7 linked regions of the Homo sapiens genome follow. The protein of the gene in region 7 purifies or fractionates together with the protein of the main gene of each other region. This does not show direct contact. Each region holds a gene or a part of one and is shown on either strand. Other genes may lie near its edges.

Evidence for each region.
Region 1: the proteins of TERT (region 7) and PSME3IP1 purify together in Homo sapiens (affinity purification with mass spectrometry; one large-scale study listed by BioGRID and IntAct). This does not show direct contact.
Region 2: the proteins of TERT (region 7) and FOXM1 purify together in Homo sapiens (affinity purification with western blotting; one study listed by BioGRID). This does not show direct contact.
Region 3: the proteins of TERT (region 7) and NAT10 purify together in Homo sapiens (affinity purification with western blotting, with the first as the bait; one study listed by BioGRID). This does not show direct contact.
Region 4: the proteins of TERT (region 7) and RPL3L purify together in Homo sapiens (affinity purification with mass spectrometry, with the first as the bait; one large-scale study listed by BioGRID). This does not show direct contact.
Region 5: the proteins of TERT (region 7) and SMARCA2 purify together in Homo sapiens (co-immunoprecipitation; one study listed by IntAct). This does not show direct contact.
Region 6: the proteins of TERT (region 7) and MKRN1 purify together in Homo sapiens (affinity purification with western blotting; 2 studies listed by BioGRID). This does not show direct contact.

Annotation. Positions count from the first base shown.
Region 1 is NC_000016.10:57,151,966-57,155,039, reverse strand, and holds the end of PSME3IP1 (PSME3-interacting protein), read left to right. Parts: intron 1-532; coding exon 533-750; 3' UTR 751-2,574; downstream 2,575-3,074. UniProt on the Homo sapiens protein: Promotes the association of the proteasome activator complex subunit PSME3 with the 20S proteasome and regulates its activity.
Region 2 is NC_000012.12:2,863,675-2,867,174, reverse strand, and holds part of FOXM1 (forkhead box protein M1), read left to right. Parts: intron 1-653; coding exon 654-782; intron 783-1,775; coding exon 1,776-1,820; intron 1,821-2,229; coding exon of another isoform or gene 2,230-2,290; intron 2,291-2,419; coding exon of another isoform or gene 2,420-2,422; coding exon 2,423-2,492; intron 2,493-2,679; coding exon 2,680-2,855; intron 2,856-3,500. UniProt on the Homo sapiens protein: Transcription factor regulating the expression of cell cycle genes essential for DNA replication and mitosis. Plays a role in the control of cell proliferation. Also plays a role in DNA break repair, participating in the DNA damage checkpoint response.
Region 3 is NC_000011.10:34,108,629-34,112,128, forward strand, and holds part of NAT10 (RNA cytidine acetyltransferase), read left to right. Parts: intron 1-113; coding exon 114-205; intron 206-3,423; coding exon 3,424-3,500. UniProt on the Homo sapiens protein: RNA cytidine acetyltransferase that catalyzes the formation of N(4)-acetylcytidine (ac4C) modification on mRNAs, 18S rRNA and tRNAs.
Region 4 is NC_000016.10:1,948,190-1,951,689, forward strand, and holds part of RPL3L (ribosomal protein uL3-like), read right to left. Parts: intron 2,791-3,500; coding exon 2,655-2,790; intron 1-2,654. UniProt on the Homo sapiens protein: Heart- and skeletal muscle-specific component of the ribosome, which regulates muscle function. Component of the large ribosomal subunit in striated muscle cells: replaces the RPL3 paralog in the ribosome in these cells.
Region 5 is NC_000009.12:2,189,847-2,193,346, forward strand, and holds part of SMARCA2 (SWI/SNF-related matrix-associated actin-dependent regulator of chromatin subfamily A member 2), read left to right. Parts: intron 1-1,419; coding exon 1,420-1,562; intron 1,563-2,857; coding exon 2,858-2,893; 3' UTR 2,894-3,500. UniProt on the Homo sapiens protein: ATPase involved in transcriptional activation and repression of select genes by chromatin remodeling (alteration of DNA-nucleosome topology).
Region 6 is NC_000007.14:140,459,006-140,462,505, forward strand, and holds part of MKRN1 (E3 ubiquitin-protein ligase makorin-1), read right to left. Parts: intron 932-3,500; coding exon 702-931; intron 229-701; coding exon 2-228; intron 1-1. UniProt on the Homo sapiens protein: E3 ubiquitin ligase catalyzing the covalent attachment of ubiquitin moieties onto substrate proteins. These substrates include FILIP1, p53/TP53, CDKN1A and TERT.
Region 7 is NC_000005.10:1,264,069-1,267,568, reverse strand, and holds part of TERT (telomerase reverse transcriptase), read left to right. Parts: intron 1-1,033; coding exon 1,034-1,105; intron 1,106-2,976; coding exon 2,977-3,165; intron 3,166-3,500. UniProt on the Homo sapiens protein: Telomerase is a ribonucleoprotein enzyme essential for the replication of chromosome termini in most eukaryotes. Active in progenitor and cancer cells. Inactive, or very low activity, in normal somatic cells.

The sequences.
Region 1 (3,074 bases), on a different chromosome or scaffold from region 7:
AAATGTTTAAAAAGAAAAGAATGTTATTTTGTAGCTGATGTTTGGCCTTAAAATTGTATCTGTGCTAGCTGGCTTATTGGTCAGTAAATAAGAAATGGTGTAATACGCTGAGAACTTAATGGAATTGTTAATATTGCTCACAGTGTCTCTCTTAATCTGTTTTCAGATTCTCACGGCTGTGTGAGCACAGGGAAATCAAAGCACTCTAGGCTACACTCCAGAGTAGCTTGTTCTCCAACTCGGATTTGATGGGGAACAAGAGAGTGTAGTCAGGCTCTGGGGTTAAAAAGACCTTGATTCAAGTCTCAGCTCTGCCCCTTTACTTTCAGAAGTCCTTTCACCTCCTGGAGCCTCCCTTCCTCCTTCAGTTTCCCCATCTCTAAAACGAGGGTGATGATAGTATTGGCTGCATAGCATTGTTCTAAGGCTCCTCTGTGGGAAAATCCCTTGGTACAGTGCCTGGCACATGGTAAGTCAGTCCCCAACTTTGGAAAAGGGTGATGAAGTGACAGTCTTTCCCCTTTTATTGCAGAGCCCTCATCCTGCAAGTCTCTCGGAAACACCTCCCTGAGTGGCCCCTCCATCCACTGCCCCTCTGCTGCAGTATGTATCGGCATCCTCCCAGGCCTGGGTGCCTACTCTGGGAGCAGCGACTCCGAGTCCAGCTCAGACAGCGAAGGCACCATCAATGCCACCGGAAAGATTGTCTCCTCCATCTTCCGAACCAACACCTTCCTCGAGGCCCCCTAGTTTCTCCGTCCCTACACAGGGAGCTCCTCCCCAAGGGTAGATCGGACCGTTCATGCTGCCTATAGGCATTATGTCCCTCAAAAAAAAACTCCTTTGCCTGCATCCTGTGTACAACATGACATTTTTAACCAATCCAATCTAAAAATGTGCCAGAATCCACCTGTGGCCCGAATCGTGTTTGGTTCCTCTTTCTACTCCACTGCAGATGACCAAACCTGTCCCGCTGCCACTTTCCTCACTGATATTGGGAGGAGGGCAAGGCCCAGCCGAAGTTCCACTAAAAATGCCCCAGGAGAATAGGCACCGGCTGGCTTGCCAAAGGGTTTGGGTTTTATTGCTTTCTGTTTTTTCTTTTCCCGACAGCACAAAGAAGTAAGGGCAGTTATTGGACAGGTGTTATTTAAACATTCTATTGTAAATGAATGTGTTGTTTGGTTCTACTGCATTGTGGAGCATGCGGGGGAAGAGAACTGACCCAGGTAGTGAAATGGAGCCCTTCCCTGGAACTAACCAGTCCTTGATGTTGTGTGACTAAGTAAAGATGATAAACCCCATCTGCTGGGGGTGTCACTTCACACTCGGCATGCATTGTGAAAGCTTTCCATACCCTTGGCCATTCCCTCTCTCCTCTCTCTCCAACCCCATTTATGCAGGAAGGGACTGCTAACAAGAACGCTTCCATCTCAAACCTTTTCTCTGCCTGGGAAATTATTTTATGTTTGTTTTTGAAATAAAGGATTTAGTTTAAGATTCTAAATTTTAGAGAAACAAACGTAGGCCTTGTTTACTAATAGCCAGACATCAGAACTGCAGGTAGGTATGTTAATGAGATGACTTATTTCTGGCAGCTCCTGGAATCCTAATATTGTAAATGAGTGGGACACACTTGCATATTGTGACCATTCTATTGAGGCCCTTCTCTGTTTAATGCATATTATACTTGTGCTTTTAACTGTGGAATCTATTTCTAACCTAAAGGTGCTGCCCTAGTACTTTTCTTTGCTGCCTCTGCTGCTCTTTTTCCTTTCCAAACAGCAACTCTGAGGCCATGAGCAGCCAAAAACTAGAGGTACTGCTCCACCTCGTCTCATAAAGGGAAACGGGCTCATCCCTTGGATTCTGGAGGAGGGAGAGGGAGATGGTGTGGAGGCCTCGAGGACAGAGATAGACATGAGCTTTGACAACAATCTGTAGGCTCTCCTGCTTTAGAATAAGCATGTACCATTCTTTATCCATTCCCCTTATTCCTACATCAATTGTTTTTACTTTCTTGGGTGTGAGACTGAGTGAGACACACACAAAATGTGTTGACACTGTGATGCCGGCAGGCAGAGCAGCTACTGACTTTGAACATGGGCAGAGAGGCCCCTGGATCTCATCCAGCCCACTCCTTTTCCCCTTCCAGTACAGTGACACTCTGGTGCCCATTGGCAGATGGCGACTTCCCTGCACCCATAACTGATGCTTTGTGAATTCTTCCTCCTTTTCAGAACTACTCTGTGCTAATTGTTCTGCCAGTATGGGCGCATCAGCTCCATCCTGACAAACAAGACATTTAGGTAAAACTTTGTAGGCACCTTCTGCTTCTCTGCTTCATTGTTCCTGTGATAGTCCTGTTGTTATTACAGCATGTACCCAAAACAGCCTCACATTGTTACAGGAGGCAGGCCAGGACATCAAAGTCATCATCTTTATGTGGCATGACTCTTAAGAGGCCATTACTGTATCTCATGGCCTCTTGATGTGGAAAGAAGTTGACAGAGGGTTGCAGGGTTTAAAAACATCCATTAACATGAAAGCTAATAAACCTGTCAGAGAACAAGATCTTGTTTTTCCTCTACTGAATATTGTGCTTCCACCTCTCCCCATGTCTCTCAGCTAGATTGTGTTGAGAAGGTTGAGTGAGACTCTTCAGACTGTGACTTACCTTCTGGTGTCTCAGGAGAGACTGAGAATCACTGGTGATCATTGCATCATATTCCATTGTCCCCATCAGCACAGAGCTCTGGAACTGAAACAGAGCTTCTGTAGCAACCACAGCTAACAAAGCAGCGTCTGATCTGACCAACAGAGGAAGCAGCCTTGGAAAGTATCTAGTGTAGACCTTGAAGTTCAAACCCAAAGGAGAATAGAATAAACAGGGCTGGAAGGAAACACTGCTTTAAACTGTAAAGTGTAGTACTCCTGCCTTAATAATTGGGATTTTATGGTAATTACGGGACAAAAACAAAGTTTGGCATGGGTTTCTTTAAGCTCGCTTACTTTGTTCTGAGTGGTAGGATTCTTACAATTCTCCAGCCATGTGAGGGAGAAAGCTAATAGGA
Region 2 (3,500 bases), on a different chromosome or scaffold from region 7:
CTAGTTTCTTGTTTGTTTGTTTGAGACGGGGCCTCACTCTGTCACCCAGGCTGGAGTGCAGTGACATGATCTTGGCTAACTTCAACCTCTGCCTCCCAGGTTCAAGTGATTCCCCTGCCTCAGCCTCCCGAGTAGCTGGGACTAAAGGCATGCGCCACCATGCCTGGCTAATTTTTATATTTTTGATAGAGACAGGGTTTCACCATGTTTGCTAGGCTGGTCTCAAACTCCTGGCCTCAAGTGATCCACTCACCTTGGCCTCCCACAGTGCTGGGATTATAGGCGTGAGCCACCACGCCGGGCCTAATTCCCTAGTTTCTTAATTTCTCTGAGCCACCTTTCTTGCTATTGATCACTACCTCACAGCCTTACTCTGCTTTTCTAGCCCCTGACAGCTATCTAGGTCTTTTCTTTATCACAATCTAAGGTTGGCATCAGTCTTTATTCCCGTAGAATAGATGGGTTTATGGCTGAAGGTGACGGCTCTGCGGTGTGGAGTGTCAGGAGAGTTGCCAAGAGGGCTGCAAAGACACCAGACGAAGCCTGTGCTGAGCACAGTGGGAGGGGCCTGAGGCTGGTTTCCCCATGTGTTTGAAGGGTGATGTTTCTGAATCTAAAGTAGCTGATAACCAGTTGTCTTGCTCTTCTTCCAGAACTCCATCCGCCACAACCTTTCCCTGCACGACATGTTTGTCCGGGAGACGTCTGCCAATGGCAAGGTCTCCTTCTGGACCATTCACCCCAGTGCCAACCGCTACTTGACATTGGACCAGGTGTTTAAGGTGAATGCCCTGCTTTCCTCTAAATAGGGCCTAAGTTGGAGGTTGTCATAGCCATCTCAAAAGGAAACAAGTTCTGCTAGTGATGCTTTCATTTGATCAGGGGAGAGTTAGAAGCCAGCCACCCAATTAGTGACTTGCACAAAACCCAGTGAATTAAGTACACTTGACAAATACCAAATGACACATTTTTGTGCCAGACCAGAGCAAGGAGAAGGCTGTTCTGACCCAACAGAAAGGGCTCCCCAGGGCAGTGTTTTCCTAACTTCCCTGTGAATGGGAATTGCCTGGGACATTGTTAAAACACAGCTTCCCAGACCCCTCTCTTGGGGCTCTTGATTTAGTGCTTCTGGGATGGGCCCAGGAATTTGTATTTTTAGCAAGCATCTCAGGTGATTCTTACAAGAAATTCTGGGAATGCTTGCTCTAAAAAAAGCCCTTCCTGCTGGGTGTGGTGGCTCACGTCTGTAATCCCAGCACTTTGGGAGGCTGAGGCAGGTGGATCACCTAAGGTCGGGAGTTGGAGACCAGCCTGACCAACATGGAGAAACTCCGTCTCTACTAAAAATACAAAAATTAGCTGGGTGTGGTGGCGCATGCCTGTAATCCCAGCTACTTGGGAGGCTGAGGCAGGAGAATCCCTTGAACCCAGGAGGCGGTGGTTGTGGAGAGCTGAAATCGCACCATTGCACTCCAGCCTGGGCAATAAGAGTGAAAGTCTGTCTCAAAAAAAAAAAAAAAAAAAAAAAAAAGCCTGCCTTAGGCTGGAGACCAGAAGCTGAGCTACCAGAACGTCTTTTCAGAAAGAAGTTATTTTGGTTTTTCAGAGTGCCCATAAGGCTGCTGGTAGCTGTAACCATTCTCCTGGGAGGGGCAGTTGTCTGGGGTGTCTTTTGTCATCAGTCAGGAATAAGTGTTTTTCCCAATCCGGTCAAATTGACCACGTTGGTGGTAACTTCATCTCATTTCTCTCCCACAATGCCTGGCCGCCACCAGCCACTGGACCCAGGGTCTCCACAATTGCCCGAGCACTTGGAATCAGTAAGGTTCTTTCCCTCTGGCTCGGGGCTTGGCCTTGTTTTCCTTTCACTGCTCAGCATGGCTTTAGTGGACAGAGACAAGATGTGATGTGGGGAAGGGTCCCTATGGCCATGTTTTGTCTAGGTGCCAGCCCTAGACACAGAACACCCTGAGGGTCAGGCACACACCCACTTCCCTCCCCTTCCATGGGCATCACAAGGGCACACTGAGCAGAGCAGGGCACAGCAGGGGAGCATGCTGCAGCAGCCACAAGCGCATGGCACCAGCCTCAGGGGCGGCAGTTCGTTCGCTCACTTTTGTGCCTAGCTTTTCTTTGCCACGCATATAGCTACCTGCTCTGGCATCCCCCAGGGGTGTTGAGGACACGTGGGTGAAGCGGTAGTGCCACTCTGCCATCATGTGTCTGTAGGCCACCCACCTGCCCACTCATCACAGTTTTGGAGACTGCTCGCCTACGTCCATCCCCTCAGGTTGGCCTCCTCTCTCTGGGCTGTCATTAACTCAAGCACACACCACCAGAGCAGCTGGTGGGGTTTTGCCATCCCCTCTTTACCTTATTGTGTTAACATAGGTTTCTTTCTCTCCCCATCTGCCACAAGCAGCAGCAGAAACGACCGAATCCAGAGCTCCGCCGGAACATGACCATCAAAACCGAACTCCCCCTGGGCGCACGTTAGTATGGGAGAGTGGGCCTTGGGCCTGGTCCTTGTTCTGGGGCCATATCTTTAGGGAACCAGACTCTGGGATTCTGTTCCCACCTCAAAGGGATCTGAGCCCAGAGAAGGAGAGCAAAGCTCCTGGGGCTGAGAAGGGGTGTACTCCAGTCCCCCTGCTCCTGATCTCTCGTGTTTCCTCCTAGGGCGGAAGATGAAGCCACTGCTACCACGGGTCAGCTCATACCTGGTACCTATCCAGTTCCCGGTGAACCAGTCACTGGTGTTGCAGCCCTCGGTGAAGGTGCCATTGCCCCTGGCGGCTTCCCTCATGAGCTCAGAGCTTGCCCGCCATAGCAAGCGAGTCCGCATTGCCCCCAAGGTGGGTGTCCTATTTTCCTCTGAAGAGAGATTCTGGCCAATTAAGAATGTTGGACCTTCAGCTTGCAAAGCACTCTGATAAGTGTTCCTTGAGAGCTTATAAATCTAGTTGGGTAGAAAAGGCATAAAAACATAGGGAAGTGTAATAGCATTAGAAGAGCTAAAAAGGTATTTGGATTACAATGTAAGTGGTGTCAGAAGGCCCATAAATACCTGATGAGCTTGTAAGAATTCAGACAAAAGTGATTGTGATAGATGGGCTAGGATTATTAAGGAAGATACACAAGGGAGGCAGGCCTTAGAAAGAGATGGATTTGGCCGGGCGCTGTGGCTTACACCTGTAATCCCAGCACTTTGGGAGGCCAAGGCAGGTGGATCATGAGGTCAGGAGTTTGAGACCAGCCTGGCCAACGTGGCGAAACCCCGTCTCTACTAAAAAATACAAAAATTAGCTGGGCTTGGTGGCACATGCCTGTAATCCCAGCTACTTGGGAGGCTGAGGCTGGAGAATCACATGAGCCCAGGAAGGGAAGTTGCAGTGAGCCGAGATCACTGCACTCCAGCCTGGGTGACAGAGCGAGACTCTGTCTCAAAAAAAAAAAAAGAAAAGAAAGAAGTGGATTTGAGGCTAGACGCTGTGGGTCTC
Region 3 (3,500 bases), on a different chromosome or scaffold from region 7:
TTCCCTTCCCTGGCCCTCAGTTTAGTTTCCACATCCGTCAAATGAGGTCTTAAGCCTGGCGGTCTCTAAAGTCTCTTTTGTGCCTGAAATTCTGTGACTTTTTTGTTTGGCAGGTGGTAATACTTCATCACATGTTATCCAAAGCAACTGTGAAGGCTCGGCCTTCAGTGCTGTGGTGTTATAAGAAAGAGCTGGGGTTTAGCAGGTAAGCTGGGCTCTTCATGTGTTTTATCCAACTTACAATTCCTGCTCATTAGTTAAATGCCAGGAAATGATTCCTTCACATATTTTTTAAGGGTCTTTAGTGGAGGTGCTATCTCTGAGGACAAATGGAGCTGATATCCTTTCTTCATTCCTGAAAATAAGTTTCAAATCATTTTCATGCTTTTTAAGTCACCAATCCAATGCCTTGCCTTCTGCATATGGTTTTCCTTCCTGCTTTTCTAGGCTGATTAAGCCCATCTCATTGCAAGTTCCTTCAAACTGTCTTTCCTACCTCAAATTTATTCCACTTTTCACTCTCTCTCTTTTTCTCCCCTTCTTTCATGGAGGGGGTATATGCCTCATCCCATGTCCAAGGAAAACCCCTTTATGTACCCTGTGTCTCCTCCCTCACCTCTTTCAGGACCTGTATTGTCTTTCCTCTGCTGGCCACCCAATACCCTTTGGAAACTTTCTCCTTCCTGTAAACATGCTCAGATTTTTCTATTATCAAAAGCTGATTACTTACATACCCAGATTTCTCTCTCAGGTTAGCATTTCCCCCGATTTTTATTGCCATATACCTTAAAACAGAAATCTTTTGCACTTAGTAGCCACTTTTGCAGTCTGGTTTCTGCTTCTATAATTGTGATCAAATTGTGCAGTTAGACATCCCCAGCAGCTTGATGCCTAATGCGTCAACTTTTCTCTCTCTTTCTCCTCCTTTTCAGAGCTCTGCCTCTTCTTCTACCAGTTCACTGCTGTATTTGACAGTTGGCTATTTGAAGCTGTGGTAGTCAAGACTTTTAGTCATAGATAACATACTTTCAACACAAATACAATTTGGCACAAAGGGATTTCATTGAGGTATATGGGATATTTCCTGGAATCCAAGGGGATAAGATTTCAGCTCTGCTCACGGGTGATCTAGAGTCACAGTACTAATGCTCCCAGCTCAGTTTGTCATCTCAGTGTATCTGCTCTATGCAGACCAACTTTCTCACTGCAGACCAGCTTTCTGTTTTCTGTTGTCCCCCTAGCAGAAACAACACTTGCGTTTTCCTTGTTTCAGGCCCAGCCATGTGGAAATCAGACTTTTTCCCAAAATTCTGGTGGAAAAATGCCCACACCTGGCCAGAGGAGGGTGGGGTTGGTCATAGCATAATACAAAGTTGGAAGTTCTACCTACAACTTTGTGTTTGGAGAAGTTTGGATGGGGTGGGTAGTGCTGTTCCTTGGCAGATAACCACCATGGCATCACCTAAGAAATAGTCTCCTTTTTTGGCTTCAGTGTCTTTACTCAGACCACCTTCCGGAGCTCTTCTCTTTCTCTGGATCTCGTCTCCTTACTCTAAACCTAGCTGGCTTGTGCGATTCTGTCCTTGAGCCTCTTCTAATTTCCAAATGTGCTCATCTCCGATCTGACTCTGAAAGCCTGTCTCCAGCTCTGGTTGCTTTATGCTGTGACTAACCTCCCTCCTTTTCTTTGCTCATGCTGTCTCCTCTGCTTGGAATGCCACTTCCACCTCCCCGGTATCACCTATTGAAATCCTGTTTCTCAGGGCCTGCCTCCTCCGTGAAACTTTTCCTGAGCCCCCCAGTCATACCTGGTGGTTCCTCTACCTTCCTCTGCACTTGTCCTTCTCCTATAATGTTTGCCAATGGATGCTTTTGCTTTAGGGTAAAGTCACTTACATACTGTGACTTACGTTCATTTTTTTTTCTTTCCCTTTTTTTTTTTTTTTTTTTTTTTTTACTTTCAGGTGATAAGCTTATTTAGTTAGGAGCCCTCTTCTATTTATCTTTGTATTTTCATACTTTTAACTGATTTAGCATGTTTATCATAGGTACTCAGTATACATTGAGTTGGATGTGTTGTTAACAGGCTCTAAAATTATTTTAATTTAAATTAGTACCAGAGGCTAAACTTGCCCCTGTCCTGTGGTCTTAAAGTGAAGGGATTCTGCCTAAAGGAAACCAGACAATCATAAGAGCCTTACTGATGAAATGTGAAAAGTGCAGAAAACCCAAAGATGAAAATAAAAAACATCTCACTGTCTAGGCATTGTCAGCATCTAGGTGTATCTTACAGGGATGTAGTTTTGAACCATAATTGGTATTCTGTTGTATATACTCTCATATTTAGAGAGGTAGGCATTTTTAATACAGATTGAGAATAAGGCCTGTTGTCTATCCCAGAATTTTAAGTTTTTAGGGCTTCTGGTTTTCACTATTTTTCATTTGGCAAATATGAGATGGGTGTGGAATTAGGCAGTTCAAAGTCTTCTGGGCAGATTTGCCTTTTGAATTTAAACCACCTGGCTTCACTTCTAAAAATCTACTTTTGTACCTCTTATAGCTCTTCTGCCCCACCCCTGTCTTAGTCTGGCAGAGCATTGTGTTCAAGCTAATGCCTGTTTGTAAGTCACGGGCTTAAGGCCTGAGCCAGAAGGGACAGTGGAGACAAACTCACCCACTGCCTTGGTTCATAGATGAGGAAGTGGAGGCCCACAGGAGGAAAGGCCTTTGTTCTAGCTATTAAGTTAGAGAACTATGGTAAAATTTTGATCAGCTGTAATCCTCCATTCTAGAACATTCTAATTCTCTCTTTTGGTAAAGGAAAGGTAAGTAGCAACTGGATATGCAGGGTTTTTAAGACCAAAAAAATTCAGGAATTCCTTAGAGATGTCCAGATTCCATTCTGATCCCTGTGTCCTGTATCATTATTGTCTTATGTAAGACCTGCCCTTGAAGACATAATCCCACATTCTCGGGGAGGAAGTCCTCTAGGAAGGATGAATAAAGTAACGTGCCATCACCTTGTCTTTCCTAGGATCTCTGGGGAACAGCACAGTGTAGTTGAAGCATTGGCTTATGACTGAGATAATGAGGCCACTCAGGTTTGGTTTCAAGCTCTGGCTTTGGCCAAATGTGAGGGTTAGCTACCCTATTACCCATCTTTTAAAGCAAAGTATTTGCTCAAGGTCACAGGGCAAAATAGCAGAGTTCACACATAGACTTATCACTTACTCCAAGCCCTTAAGCACTCTAATGCCTCTCATGCCTCTCCACTGCCCTCCACCTGAAGTGGGCCTCACACTTTCAAGTTCCCTACTAGCTCTGAAAGTCTAAGTGGGTGATCACTGAGCCTTTCCCCTGGTTCCAGCTCTTTAGCTGCTCTGGTTAACTGGCTCTCATGGGATTGGGGGTGTGTGATTGCAGTCACCGGAAGAAAAGAATGCGACAGCTGCAGAAGAAAATAAAGAATGGAACACTGAACATAAAGCAGGACGACCCCT
Region 4 (3,500 bases), on a different chromosome or scaffold from region 7:
GCCTCCCAAAGTGCTGGGATTACAGGCGTGAGCCACCACGCCCGGCCTTTTTTTAATGGAGTCTCGCTCTGTTGCCCAGACTGGAGTACAGTGGGGCGATCTCGGCTCACTGCAACCTCTGCCTCCCTGAATCAAGTGATTCTCCTGCCTCAGCTTCTTGAGTAACTGGGATTACAGGTGTGTGCCACCATGCCCGGCTAATTTTTTTGTATTTTTAGTACAGTTGGGGTTTCCCATGTTGGCCAGGCTGGTTTCAAACTCCTGACTTCAAGCGATCCACCCACCTTGACCTCCCAAAGTGCTAGGGTTCAGGCATGAGCCACTGCACCTGGCCTGATTTTTATTTTTTTATATTTTTATTTTGAGACAGGGTCTCGCTCTGTCACCCAGGCTGGAGTGCAGTGGCATGATCAAGGCTCACTGCAGCCTCAGCCTCCCGGGCCGAAGCAATCCTCCCACCTTAGCCTCCTGAGTAGCTGGGATGACAGGCACTCACCACCATGCCCAGTTGTTTTTTTTTTGTTTGTTTGTTTGTTTGTTTTTTGAGACGGAGTTTTGCTCTGTCGCCCAGGCTGGAGTGCAGTGGCGCAATCTCGGCTCACTGCAAGCTCTGCCTCCTGGGTTCACGCCATTCTCCTACCTCAGCCTCCCGAGTAGCTGGGACTACAGGTTGTGCCACTACGCCTGGCTAATTTTTTGTATTTTTAGTAGAGACGGGGTTTCACCGCGTTAGCTAGGATGGTCTCAATCTCCTGACCTGATCTGCCTGCCTCGGCCTCCCAAAGTGCTGGAATTACAGACGTGAGCCACCGCGCCTGGCTTTTTTTTTTTTTTTTTGTAGAGATGGGGATCTCCCTATGTTGCCAAGACTGGTCTCGAAGTCCTCCTGCCTCAGCACCCCTCTCCAAGTAGCTGGAACTACAGGCATGCACCACCATGCCCAGCCAATTTTTAATTTTTTTGTAGAGATGAGGTCTCGTTAAGTTGCCCGGGCTGCCACCTTGTCCTCCCACAGTGCTAGGATCACTGGTGTAAGCCACTGGGCCTGATTTTTGTTTTTTTTTTTTTTCTTTTTTTTTTTTTTTTTTTTTTGAGACTCTATCGCCCGGGCTGGAGTGCCATGGTGCGATCTTGGCTCACTGCAACCTCCACCTCCCAGTTTCAAGTGATTCTCCTGCCTCAGTCTCCCAAGTAGCTGGGATTGCAGGCGCCCACCATGCCCAGCTAATTTGTTTGTATTTTTACTAGAGATGGGGTTTTGCCATGTTGGCCAGGCTGGTCTCGAACTCCTGACCTCAGGTGATCCGCCTGCCTTGGCCTCCCAAAGTGCTGGGGTTACAGGCGTGATCCACCATGTCTGGCTTGATTTTTTTTTTTTTTTTTTGGTAAGGTCTCTGGCTGGTGCTGTGTGAAGCACAGGCTGTGCAATGTAGAGGTGGAGACAGAGAGGCCAGCGGGGAACACATAGTGACCCATAGGTATGTATGGGGCAGGTATGTATGAGGCAGGTATGTACGGGGCAGGTATGGACGGGGCAGTATGTACGGGGCAGGTATGTACGGGGCAGGTATGTAGGGGGCAGGTATGTAGGGGGCAGGTATGGACGGGGCAGGTATGGACGGGGCAGGTATGGACGGGGCAGGTATGGACGGGGTAGGTATGGACGGGGTAGGTATGTAGGGGGCAGGTATGTAGGGGGCAGGTATGTAGGGGGCAGGTATGTAGGGGGCAGGTATGTAAGGGGCAGGTATGTAAGGGGCAGGTATGTAAGGGGCAGGTATGGACGGGGCAGGTATGGACAGGGCAGGTATGTAGGGGGCAGGTATGTAGGGAGCAGGTATGGACGGGGCAGGTATAGACAGAGCAGGTATGTAGGGGGCAGGTATGGACGGGGCAGGTATGTAGGGGGCAGGTATGGACGGGGCAGGTATGTAGGGGGCAGGTATGGACAGGGCAGGTATGTATGGGGTGGGTATGTATGGGGTGGGTATGTATGGGGCGGGTATGTATGGGGCAGGTATTTACAGAGCACCTCCTGCATACCAGGCTCTTGGTGGCAGCTGTGGCCCCGCCCAGGGCCTCTGCCTGCCTGGAGTCTGTCCAGGGAGATGAACACACACCAGTGACTGGCCCAGGCATGGTGTACAAGTGTGCGAGCAGCTGGGGGCAGTGTGGGGGCTGTGGGAAGCTCAGGGTCGGGGGCACTGCTCTAGGGCCTCGGGAAGCCTTCCCTGAGGACAAAGATGCCAAAGAGTGTTCCAGAATAAGCTGGAGGGTGCCGCCTGCCTGTCAGCCTACAGCAAGCCAGACCCATGTACAAACACGGATTCCTGTGCACACTTACGCTGGAAACCGAAGAGAGGTGACCAGCCCTCCACACAGCACACTTGGCTGGGGACCCGGCTCTTCAGGGCGTGCCAGGGTCTTAGTTGACTAGCCGGCGTGGCTGATGCCCCTGGCACCCCAGAAGGCACCGATGCCTTTCAGCAGCCATGCCTGGGGCTGCACGTGGCCAGCGAGGCTGGTCAGCCGCTCCTCTGGGTCTGTGCCGAGGCTCGGGTATTTTTAGGCTGACATTTGCCACAGCTCCTGGAAGCTGGGGTGAGGGAGCGTGGTCCTAGGGACTGACCGACAGCGGAGGGCCGGGGGCTGACCTGAGTGTGGACAATGACCCGAATGACCTTGCAGTACTTCTTCATGGCGGCGAAGTCCTTCTGTAGCTGCTTTTTCCCGTCTGTGTCCCGCCACCTCTTGCAGGCCTTGGTGAAGGCTTTCTTCTTGCTCTTGTGCCTGAGCCATGCACAGGAGGGTGCTCAGAAGCCCCCAACCGGGGCAGCTCCCCAGGCCTATCCTGCCCCCACCTCACCCCCAGCCCACCAAGCAGGGGTCCTACCTCTGGGACCGCCCCCCACCCGGAGGCCTCTGAGCTGGTTCCAGCCACCATCTTTGAACATAGACTGTCTCTCCCCCTCTAGGCCCCGGTTTCCTCCTCTGTAAAGTAGGTACCCTCCCTGTTTCCCGGGGCCTGAGAGTGAGTGGCAGAGGTGCAGAAGCTCAGAGAAGGCGGCTGGCCAGCCCTGCAGTCCAGGCACCTAGAGACCACCCCACCTGCCACATGGCTCAGACTGCTGGTCCCACTTCTCAAGGGTGCAGTGGGTGCCATGGCCAGGCACCTCGGGCTTGGGAGCCATCCTTTCTTTTTTGTTTTTGGAGATAGGGTCTCACTTTCTCTCCCAGGCTGGAGTGCAGTGGCACAAACACAGCTCACTGCAGCCTGGAGCTCCCAGACTCAAGCAATCCTCCCACCTCACCCCCCATGTAGCTGAGACCACAGGCATGCGCCACCGTGCCCGGCTAATTTTTTGTATTTTTTTGTAGAGACGGGTTTCGTCATGTTGCCCAGGCTGGTCTCGAAGCCCTGAGCTCAAACGGTCTGCCTGCCTTAGCCTCCCAAAGTGCTGGAATTATAGGAATGAACCATTGTGCCCAGCCAGAAGCCA
Region 5 (3,500 bases), on a different chromosome or scaffold from region 7:
GAGATTTTAGTTTTGGAAATATTTTGTGGGTCCCTCTACTTCACAAAAGAAGTCTGAAACAAACACTCTCATCTCCTTCTGGAGCTAGGATTCCCTCTATGACAACATCTATTTCTAGATGCCTTGAGACCCACCAAACATGGTAGTCTAGCAAAGCTAGCTTGAATGAGAGACCCACATTTTCAGTGCCTTCATCATCAAATACCAAAAATGGTATTCTGTGGATACCTATCCCAAATAGCTACCATGGAGCAGATTGTCTTTGTTCTTTGGGATATGTACCTATATTTGTGATATTGTACCTTGAACTCTTCCAAGTGTTTCCATTGGTATCCCCAGAATAGTCCTGTGAAGGTGGAAATGGGTGCAGTCTTTCTGAAGGCTAATCTGACAGAGCACTGTTAGAAATTTACCATATGGACATGTCCACCATACCTCCCTCAAATTCTACCAAGATACATTGAAATAGGTTCACAGCAGCTTTGTTTATACTAGCAAAAAAAGCAGCAAACTTCAGCCCTCATCATATGAGACTGATTAAATAAATTATAGTATACCATACGATGGAAAATTTTCAGGTATTTAAAAGAATTAGGCAGGTATGTATGAGGCTTTACCTATAAATATCCCACATATGTGAGTAAACAGCCAAGTGGAGAATATGGACATGTATAAAGATCCCTTTGGGATAACTACATAAAGAATTCAAGTATGTACGTGTGTATATATACTTACTTGAATTCTTTATATTCTATAGAGAGACTTTTATAGAATATGTAGAATCACACACACACACATACACACAGAGAGAGAGAAATGGATGTACTTGCAGGTATGGACATAAACATTTTTTTTCCTGGAAATAATTAGTTATAGGGAAAGAGACTAGGAATGGGGGAAAGGAAGCATTCAAAAGTGTTTTCTTTTTACTTTCCATTTTGTACCTTTATGTTAAAAATATGATTGAACTATTTGAATTTTCTTTTTAAGTCAATGGAGTTATCTACATGGTAAAATTATTGGCCTTTAAACTCTTTACATTTATTTATATTTTTAATGTAAAAGTTCTATTAAATGATTGCCCAACACCTCCACAAGTAGAAAACACTTCCCCTCATTATCCTTGGTCAGCCATTGGGAGACAGGTGAAGGATCCAGCCCCACTGTCCTCCATGAGACCTCGGTCCCTCTTGTTGCCTGTTTAGCGTGACTACATCATTTATCTTCCAAAAGAAGACAGGTTGGCAAGTGAAAGGGGTCGCTGACTAGACAGAACCACACAGAACAGGCATAAACCGGGAATGTTCTGGGCACTCTGGGATGTTTGTGTTGTCTGTAGGTTGGTGATAGTCTTACCACCTATACAAAGATCTCCTTGTGATTACTCACTGGTGTCTATTTCATTTGCTTTGGTTTTAGCAAAATCAGTCAAGGTGAAAATTAAGCTCAATAAAAAAGATGACAAAGGCCGGGACAAAGGGAAAGGCAAGAAAAGGCCAAATCGAGGAAAAGCCAAACCTGTAGTGAGCGATTTTGACAGCGATGAGGAGCAGGATGAACGTGTAAGTGTAGCCGACTGGGACTGAAGGCGGAGACGCCCTCTCCCCTGCTTGCTGGCCTCTTGCATTTCCATGCCCCTTCAGCCTTTTCGCTTTATTACCCAGGACTGGAAATGTCAGGATTTAGTGAGATTTCATTATTGAGGGATGTGAACGGAGCTGTATGATTTAGAACAAAGGATTGGGGGCTTTGTTTATTGCCTTTTTAATAGTCTTCAAAAATGAAAAACTACCAAATCAAGCTTCCCTTTCCCCCTTTTTAATCTTCCCACATGCTTTCTTATAAATATGGTTTTCCCCGTAGCCAGTTAATATTTTACATGCATCACAGCCAGCATGGTGCCTGGTACATAACAGTAGATTAGATGGAAGAATGAGAAAAACTGTTATGACGTCAGAGTTATTGGCTCGAGTTGCTACTTAAGGGACCATGTAAAAACTCAAAGGACTTTTTAAGTACCTAGGGGTGTTATTTTTCATATTTGAAAAATTCAGTGAGCATCTATTGAGCCAGGCCTTGTAATAGGTACCTCCCTGTGTGGTAGCATATTAAATACTGATGTCGGCATCGTGAGATAGATGTCACTCTCAAATAACATGTTATGGAAATGGTTAGGTTATGGGTGTTTTGCTACAGATCACGTCGCAGAGGTGGAATTCGGACCCGAGTAGCATAACTCAGTCTAGTGTGCTATGTCTGACTGGGCAGCAAGGTAGAAGAGTGGGCAGAAGCTCCTAATACCTTGCCTTTTGAAATACCCTTCATTTCATCCATTCACTTTCCAGAGGATGGTTTCCTGGCACCCACATTATTTTCTTTCTGGAAAGATAAATTTCCCTTTTCCTAGTTTGATTTTCCTTCAACACATTACCATTTTGGTAAAATTTCAGAATTATGATCTCACCCCAGCCTTAACCCTTGATGCAAGCATTTTCAAATACATTTTTCTTTAGGAGATGTCAAATGCAGGGTATTTTTTTTTCTCCCATGAATTTTCTAAAACCTGGGGCTGAAAAAGAGAAAATATTAGCCATAAACCTTTCAAGCCAAAGTGAAAGGGCACAAACAATAGCTTAGAGGGTGGGCTTTGCTTTGGGGTTTTTCAGTAAGAAAAACTTCTCAGCTTAGAGACTGTCGATGCCTCTTTAATGTGTTTCTGTCCTCCCACGGAAAGAGATTTGGCGAGTTGTTTCCAAAATGTCATTTTTTCCTACTGGCCTCTTGATGGTTTGTTGTTATATCTTCTTTTTCTTGCATGTGATGTTACTTCATTTTATCTTCTTATTTTTACTTTTAGGAACAGTCAGAAGGAAGTGGGACGGATGATGAGTGATCAGTATGGACCTTTTTCCTTGGTAGAACTGAATTCCTTCCTCCCCTGTCTCATTTCTACCCAGTGAGTTCATTTGTCATATAGGCACTGGGTTGTTTCTATATCATCATCGTCTATAAACTAGCTTTAGGATAGTGCCAGACAAACATATGATATCATGGTGTAAAAAACACACACATACACAAATATTTGTAACATATTGTGACCAAATGGGCCTCAAAGATTCAGATTGAAACAAACAAAAAGCTTTTGATGGAAAATATGTGGGTGGATAGTATATTTCTATGGGTGGGTCTAATTTGGTAACGGTTTGATTGTGCCTGGTTTTATCACCTGTTCAGATGAGAAGATTTTTGTCTTTTGTAGCACTGATAACCAGGAGAAGCCATTAAAAGCCACTGGTTATTTTATTTTTCATCAGGCAATTTTCGAGGTTTTTATTTGTTCGGTATTGTTTTTTTACACTGTGGTACATATAAGCAACTTTAATAGGTGATAAATGTACAGTAGTTAGATTTCACCTGCATATACATTTTTCCATTTTATGCTCTATGATCTGAACAAAAGCTTTTTGAATTGTATAAGATTTATGTCTACTGTAAACATT
Region 6 (3,500 bases), on a different chromosome or scaffold from region 7:
CTTTGATATGCTGCGATCTCTGGGCAGCATCCATTGGATGCAGGACCTGCAGCCCACACATGTCACAAGAATCTCCGTGGAGATACACACAGTTCTCCCCGTATCGGCACTCTCCCACTGCAGCATAGGGGCACAGCTGCTTCTTTGTCTCCACGGCGGTTTGCTCTTTCTCTGATTCTTCCTTGGTCACTGAGCCCTGCAGGGGTGCTTCAGTGCAGGAAGGCGCAGCTGAAAATGTGTAAGAGGGTGGTAAAGGTCCAAATAGATAAGGCATGAACTATAAGAGAACTGAGAATCTAACCGCAAAAAATGAAAATAAAACTGCAATGAAATACCAAAACAGTCTACTGAACTAACTTCTTCACTTGAAAGAAAGGAATTTTTTCTACCGCTGTTATTTCCAAGATTAGACTTGTAAAAAAAAAAAATTGCTTCTTTATCTATGTCTTGGGTAACTGAAATTTAATTTCAAAAAGTACTCGAAAGGATTCAGTTTTTCAAAACATTCTGAATTCATTTCACTGGGATTAAAAATTTCCTTCACTCTATCTGTAAATCTTAGGTAATCCAAATTAAAGTACTGTACTAAGATTAAACTAAAAAAGGAATAGAAGCAGAAAGGGGAAAGTTGTCAAAACTAAGCAAATGGATGAACTGCTATCCAGCCCTCTAACTCTTATTTTCTTCTTCAGAATACTTACTACGGCCACAGTAGGGTTGCCCAGGAACAAACTCAATAGCATTCACCCAGTCCTCTGAACCTGCTCCTACAGTTGCAAAGTTTGAATTTCTTGACTCAGCTTCGCCTGTATTCATTTCAACAAGTGGTCCAACTATCGATGAGAGACTTGAGGAAGCAGCAAGGGATGACTTTGTAGTTAGCTCTGTAGCAGTTGCTTCTTCCTGTTTCAATGGTTTGCTATGTTCATATCTAAGAAAAAATTCAAAAGTAAGCAGTCGGCCAGTCGTGGTGGCTCAAGCCTGTAATCCCAACAGTTTGGGAAGCTGAGGTGGGTGGATCACCAGAGAGGTTGGGAGTTCGAGACCAGCCTGGCCAATGTGGTGAAAACCCGTCACTACCAAAAACGCAAAAATTAGCTGGGCATGGTGGCGCACCTGTAATCCCAACTACTCGGGAGGCTGAGGTAGGAGAATCACTTGAACCCAGGAGACAGAGGTTGTGGTGAGCCGAGATCATGCCACTGTACTCCAGCCTGGGCGACAGAGTGAGACTCCGTCTCAAAAAAAAAAAAAAAAAAAAAGTAAGCACTCACTGCCTAACTTCATATATACCTTTTTCTTTTCTTTTTTTTTTTTTTTTTGAGATGGAGTCTTGCTCTGTCATCCAGGCTGGAGTGCAGTGGCGTGATCTCAGCTCACTGCAAACTCTGCCTCCTGGGTTCATGGGATTCTCCTGCCTCAGCCTCCCAAGTAGCTGGGATTACAGGCGCCAGCCACCAAGGCTGGCTAAGTTTTGTATCTTTAGTGGAGATGCCGTTTGGCCAGGCTGATCTCGAACTCCTGACCTCAGATGATCCACCCACCTCAGCCTCCCAAAGTGCTGGGGTTACAGGTGTGAGCCACCACGTACGGCCATATATTCCTAATACATTCCTTGGATTCTCTTTGAGCATCAATGTGCCTGTATTTGTGAGTGCAGAGAGAAGCCTATGATTCTGCATATTTAGTTATACCATGTGTGATGCCAAGACTGCTGGTCCAGAGACCATACTTTTGAGTAGGAAGGCAATAGACTGGGGGTCACCAAAGTTTAAAGCATCAAATACACAAATATTTTAGGCTTTGTAGGTCATACAATCAACATCACAACTACAAGTATTCAACTCTGAAACTGCAGTGCAAAAGCAGGTGTAGGCACTATTTAAAGGAATGTGTAACTGTTCCGATCAAACTTGATTTATGAAAACGGCCTTTGGCCAGATTTGGCCTGTAGGCCCATACCCCTGGCTATATACCACTTATTACTTCAAATTCCACTCTAATTAGGAGTTTCAGATAGTTGACAGTCTATAGTTCCCATGGTAACTCTGCCAGAAACCCTGCAGGCAAAACTGACTGATTTCAAAGCAAGGCTGACACAAGGTCAATAAGCAGACATGTGGAACATTTTACCAACACATCAAATAAAATGCTGTCACTATTAAAAGGTAGAGACAATATTTATACAATACACAATATGTACATTCTTTTTCTAAGAAAATCCATCCATTCACCATTTCCCCTTCCAAATTTTGCCCCTATGCATTCTCTCCTTTTCATCTGTAAACATTAAACCACCACCATCTCCAAATACGTGGGGAAAATACATCTATTTCCTTCAAGAACCTTCTTTCTGGCCTGGTGCGGTGGCTCACACCTGTCATCCCAACACTTTGGAAGTCCAAGGAGGCCAGATCACTTAAGGCCAGGAGTGTAAGACCAGCCTGGCGAAACCTGGTCTCTACTAAAAATAAAAAATTATCCGGGCATGGTGGCGCACACCTGTAATACCAGCTACTCAGGAGAGGCTGAGGCATAACAGTTGTTTAAACATGGGAGGTGGAGGGTGCAGTGAGCCAAGATCAGGCCACTGCATTCCAGCCTGGGCAACAGAGTGAGACTCTGTTTCAAAAAATAATAAAAAAAAAGCAAAGCATAGCAAGCATCTTTCTGCCTGAGAAAATTCTCACAGTTCCTGCTGGACGTGGTGGCTCAGGCCTGTAATCCCAGCACTTTGGGAGGGTGAGGCGGGTGGATCACCTGAGGTTGGGAGTTCGAGACCAGCCTGACCACCATGGAGAAACCCCGTCTCTACTAAAAATACAAAATTAGCCAGGCATGGTGGCGCATGCTTGTAATCCCAGCTACTTGGGAGGCAGAGGCAGGAGAATCACTTGAACCTGGGAGGCGGAGGTTGCAGTGAGCCTAGATGGTGCCATTGCACTCCAGCCTGGGCAACAAGAGCAAAACTCCATCTCGAAAGAAAAGAAAAGACAATTATCACAATTCTTTTAGCATTTTACACTAAGAAATTGACTGATTTTCAGAGACTCACTCTATCTCCTAGGCTGGAGTGCAGTAGCGTGACCTTAGCTCACTGCAGCCTCGACCTCCTGGGCTCAAGCAATCCGTCTGCCTTAGCCTCCTGAGTAGCTGGGACGACAGGTGTGTGCCACAATGCTGGTCTAACTTTTTTTATTTTTTGTAGAGACAAGGTTTCCCTATGTTGTCCAGGCTGGTCTCCAACTCCTGGGCTCAAGCAAGCCTCCTGCCTTAGCCTCCCAAAGTGATAGGCATGAGCCACCGTGCTCGGCACACCGAGTTTTATTCAGATGCTATGTATTAATTATGCATATAGTAAATTTAACTGTGCTACATAATTTATAGTTTGTTATCAAGTGGTTCTTATAATGAAACATTACTAACTTTGGGTCATCTGTGTTATAGGTGCCTATGTTTATACGCAAAAATAAAGTAAAATCTAACTAAAGGCTCTACTC
Region 7 (3,500 bases):
TTTGCTACTGTGAATAGTGCCGCAATAAACATACGTGTGCATGTGTCTTTATAGCAGCATGATTTATAATCCTTTGGGTATATACCCAGTAATGGGATGGCTGGGTCAAATGGTATTTCTAGTTCTAGATCCTTGAGGAATCACCACACTGTCTTCCACAATGGTTGAACTAGTTTACACTCCCACCAACAGTGTAAAAGTGTTCTGGTGCTGGAGAGGATGTGGACAGCAGTTATTTTTTTATGAAAATAGTATCACTGAACAAGCAGACAGTTAGTGAAGGATGCGTCAGGAAGCCTGCAGGCCACACAGCCATTTCTCTCGAAGACTCCGGGTTTTTCCTGTGCATCTTTTGAAACTCTAGCTCCAATTATAGCATGTACAGTGGATCAAGGTTCTTCTTCATTAAGGTTCAAGTTCTAGATTGAAATAAGTTTATGTAACAGAAACAAAAATTTCTTGTACACACAACTTGCTCTGGGATTTGGAGGAAAGTGTCCTCGAGCTGGCGGCACACTGGTCAGCCCTCTGGGACAGGATACCTCTGGCCCATGGTCATGGGGCGCTGGGCTTGGGCCTGAGGGTCACACAGTGCACCATGCCCAGCTTCCTGTGGATAGGATCTGGGTCTCGGATCATGCTGAGGACCACAGCTGCCATGCTGGTAAAGGGCACCACGTGGCTCAGAGGGGGCGAGGTTCCCAGCCCCAGCTTTCTTACCGTCTTCAGTTATTTTTCCCTAAGAGTCTGAGAAGTGGGGCCGCGCCTGATGGCCTTCGTTCGTCTTCAGCTGGCACAGAATTGCACAAGCTGATGGTAAACACTGAGTACTTATAATGAATGAGGAATTGCTGTAGCAGTTAACTGTAGAGAGCTCGTCTGTTGGAAAGAAATTTAAGTTTTTCATTTAACCGCTTTGGAGAATGTTACTTTATTTATGGCTGTGTAAATTGTTTGACATTCAGTCCCTCGTAGACAGATACTACGTAAAAAGTGTAAAGTTAACCTTGCTGTGTATTTTCCCTTATTTTAGGCTGCTCCTGCGTTTGGTGGATGATTTCTTGTTGGTGACACCTCACCTCACCCACGCGAAAACCTTCCTCAGGTGAGGCCCGTGCCGTGTGTCTGTGGGGACCTCCACAGCCTGTGGGCTTTGCAGTTGAGCCCCCCGTGTCCTGCCCCTGGCACCGCAGCGTTGTCTCTGCCAAGTCCTCTCTCTCTGCCGGTGCTGGATCCGCAAGAGCAGAGGCGCTTGGCCGTGCACCCAGGCCTGGGGGCGCAGGGGCACCTTCGGGAGGGAGTGGGTACCGTGCAGGCCCTGGTCCTGCAGAGACGCACCCAGGTTACACACGTGGTGAGTGCAGGCGGTGACCTGGCTCCTGCTGCTCTTTGGAAAGTCAAGAGTGGCGGCTCCTGGGGCCCCAGTGAGACCCCCAGGAGCTGTGCACAGGGCCTGCAGGGCCGAGGCGGCAGCCTCCTCCCCAGGGTGCACCTGAGCCTGCGGAGAGCAGGAGCTGCTGAGTGAGCTGGCCCACAGCGTTCGCTGCGGTCACGTTCCTGCGTGGGGTTGTTTGGGATCGGTGGGAGAATTTGGATTTGCTGAGTGCTGCTGTCTTGAACCACGGAGATGGCTAGGAGTGGGTTTCAGAGTTGATTTTTGTGAATCAAACTAAAATCAGGCACAGGGGACCTGGCCTCAGCACAGGGGATTGTCCAATGTGGTCCCCCTCAAGGGCGCCCCACAGAGCCGGTGGGCTTGTTTTAAAGTGCGATTTGACGAGGGACGAGAAACCTTGAAAGCTGTAAAGGGAACCCTCAGAAAATGTGGCCGCCAGGGGTGGTTTCAGGTGCTTTGCTGGGCTGTGTTTGTGAAAACCCATTTGGACCCGCCCTCCAAGTCCACCCTCCAGGTCCACCCTCCAGGGCCGCCCTGGGCTGGGGGTATGCCTGGCGTTCCTTGTGCCGCAGCCCGGAGCACAGCAGGCTGTGCACATTTAAATCCACTAAGATTCACTCGGGGGGAGCCCAGGTCCCAAGCAACTGAGGGCTCAGGAGTCCTGAGGCTGCTGAGGGGACAGAGCAGACGGGGAACGCTGCTTCTGTGTGGCAAGTTCCTGAGGGTGCTGGCCAGGGAGGTGGCTCAGAGTGTATGTTGGGGTCCCACCGGGGGCAGAACTCTGTCTCTGATGAGTCGGCAGCCATGTAACAGGAAGGGGTGGCCACAGGGAGCTGGGAATGCACCAGGGGAGCTGCGCAGCTGGCCGAGGTCCCAGGGCCAGGCCACAGGAAGGGCAGGGGGACGCCCGGGGCCACAGCAGAGGCCGCAGGAAGGGAAGGGGATGCCCAGGCCAGAGCAGAGGCTACCGGGCACAGGGGGGCTCCCTGAGCTGGGTGAGCGAGGCTCATGACTCGGCGAGGGAACCTCCTTGACGTGAAGCTGACGACTGGTGTTGCCCAGCTCACAGCCCAGCCAGGTCCCGCGCCTGAGCAGGAACTCAGAACCCTCCCCTTTGTCTAAAGCACAGCAGATGCCTTCAGGGCATCTAGGAGAAAACAGGCAAAGTCGTTGAGAAACGTCTTAAAAGAAGGTGGGATGGTGGCAATTTCTTGTCCAGATTTTAGTCTGCCCCGGACCACAGATGAGTCTATAACGGGATTGTGGTGTTGCCATGGGGACACATGAGATGGACCATCACAGAGGCCACTGGGGCTGCACCTCCCATCTGAGTCCTGGCTGTCCCGGGTCCAGGCCAGGTTCTTGCATGCTCACCTACCTGTCCTGCCCGGGAGACAGGGAAAGCACCCCGAAGTCTGGAGCAGGGCTGGGTCCAGGCTCCTCAGAGCTCCTGCCAGGCCCAGCACCCTGCTCCAAATCACCACTTCTCTGGGGTTTTCCAAAGCATTTAACAAGGGTGTCAGGTTACCTCCTGGGTGACGGCCCCGCATCCTGGGGCTGACATTGCCCCTCTGCCTTAGGACCCTGGTCCGAGGTGTCCCTGAGTATGGCTGCGTGGTGAACTTGCGGAAGACAGTGGTGAACTTCCCTGTAGAAGACGAGGCCCTGGGTGGCACGGCTTTTGTTCAGATGCCGGCCCACGGCCTATTCCCCTGGTGCGGCCTGCTGCTGGATACCCGGACCCTGGAGGTGCAGAGCGACTACTCCAGGTGAGCGCACCTGGCCGGAAGTGGAGCCTGTGCCCGGCTGGGGCAGGTGCTGCTGCAGGGCCGTTGCGTCCACCTCTGCTTCCGTGTGGGGCAGGCGACTGCCAATCCCAAAGGGTCAGAGGCCACAGGGTGCCCCTCGTCCCATCTGGGGCTGAGCAGAAATGCATCTTTCTGTGGGAGTGAGGGTGCTCACAACGGGAGCAGTTTTCTGTGCTATTTTGGTAAAAGGAAATGGTGCACCAGACCTGGGTGCACTGAGGTGTCTTCAGAAAGCAGTCTGGATCCGAACCCAAGACGCCCGGGCCCTGCTGGGCGTGAGTCTCTCCAAACCCGAA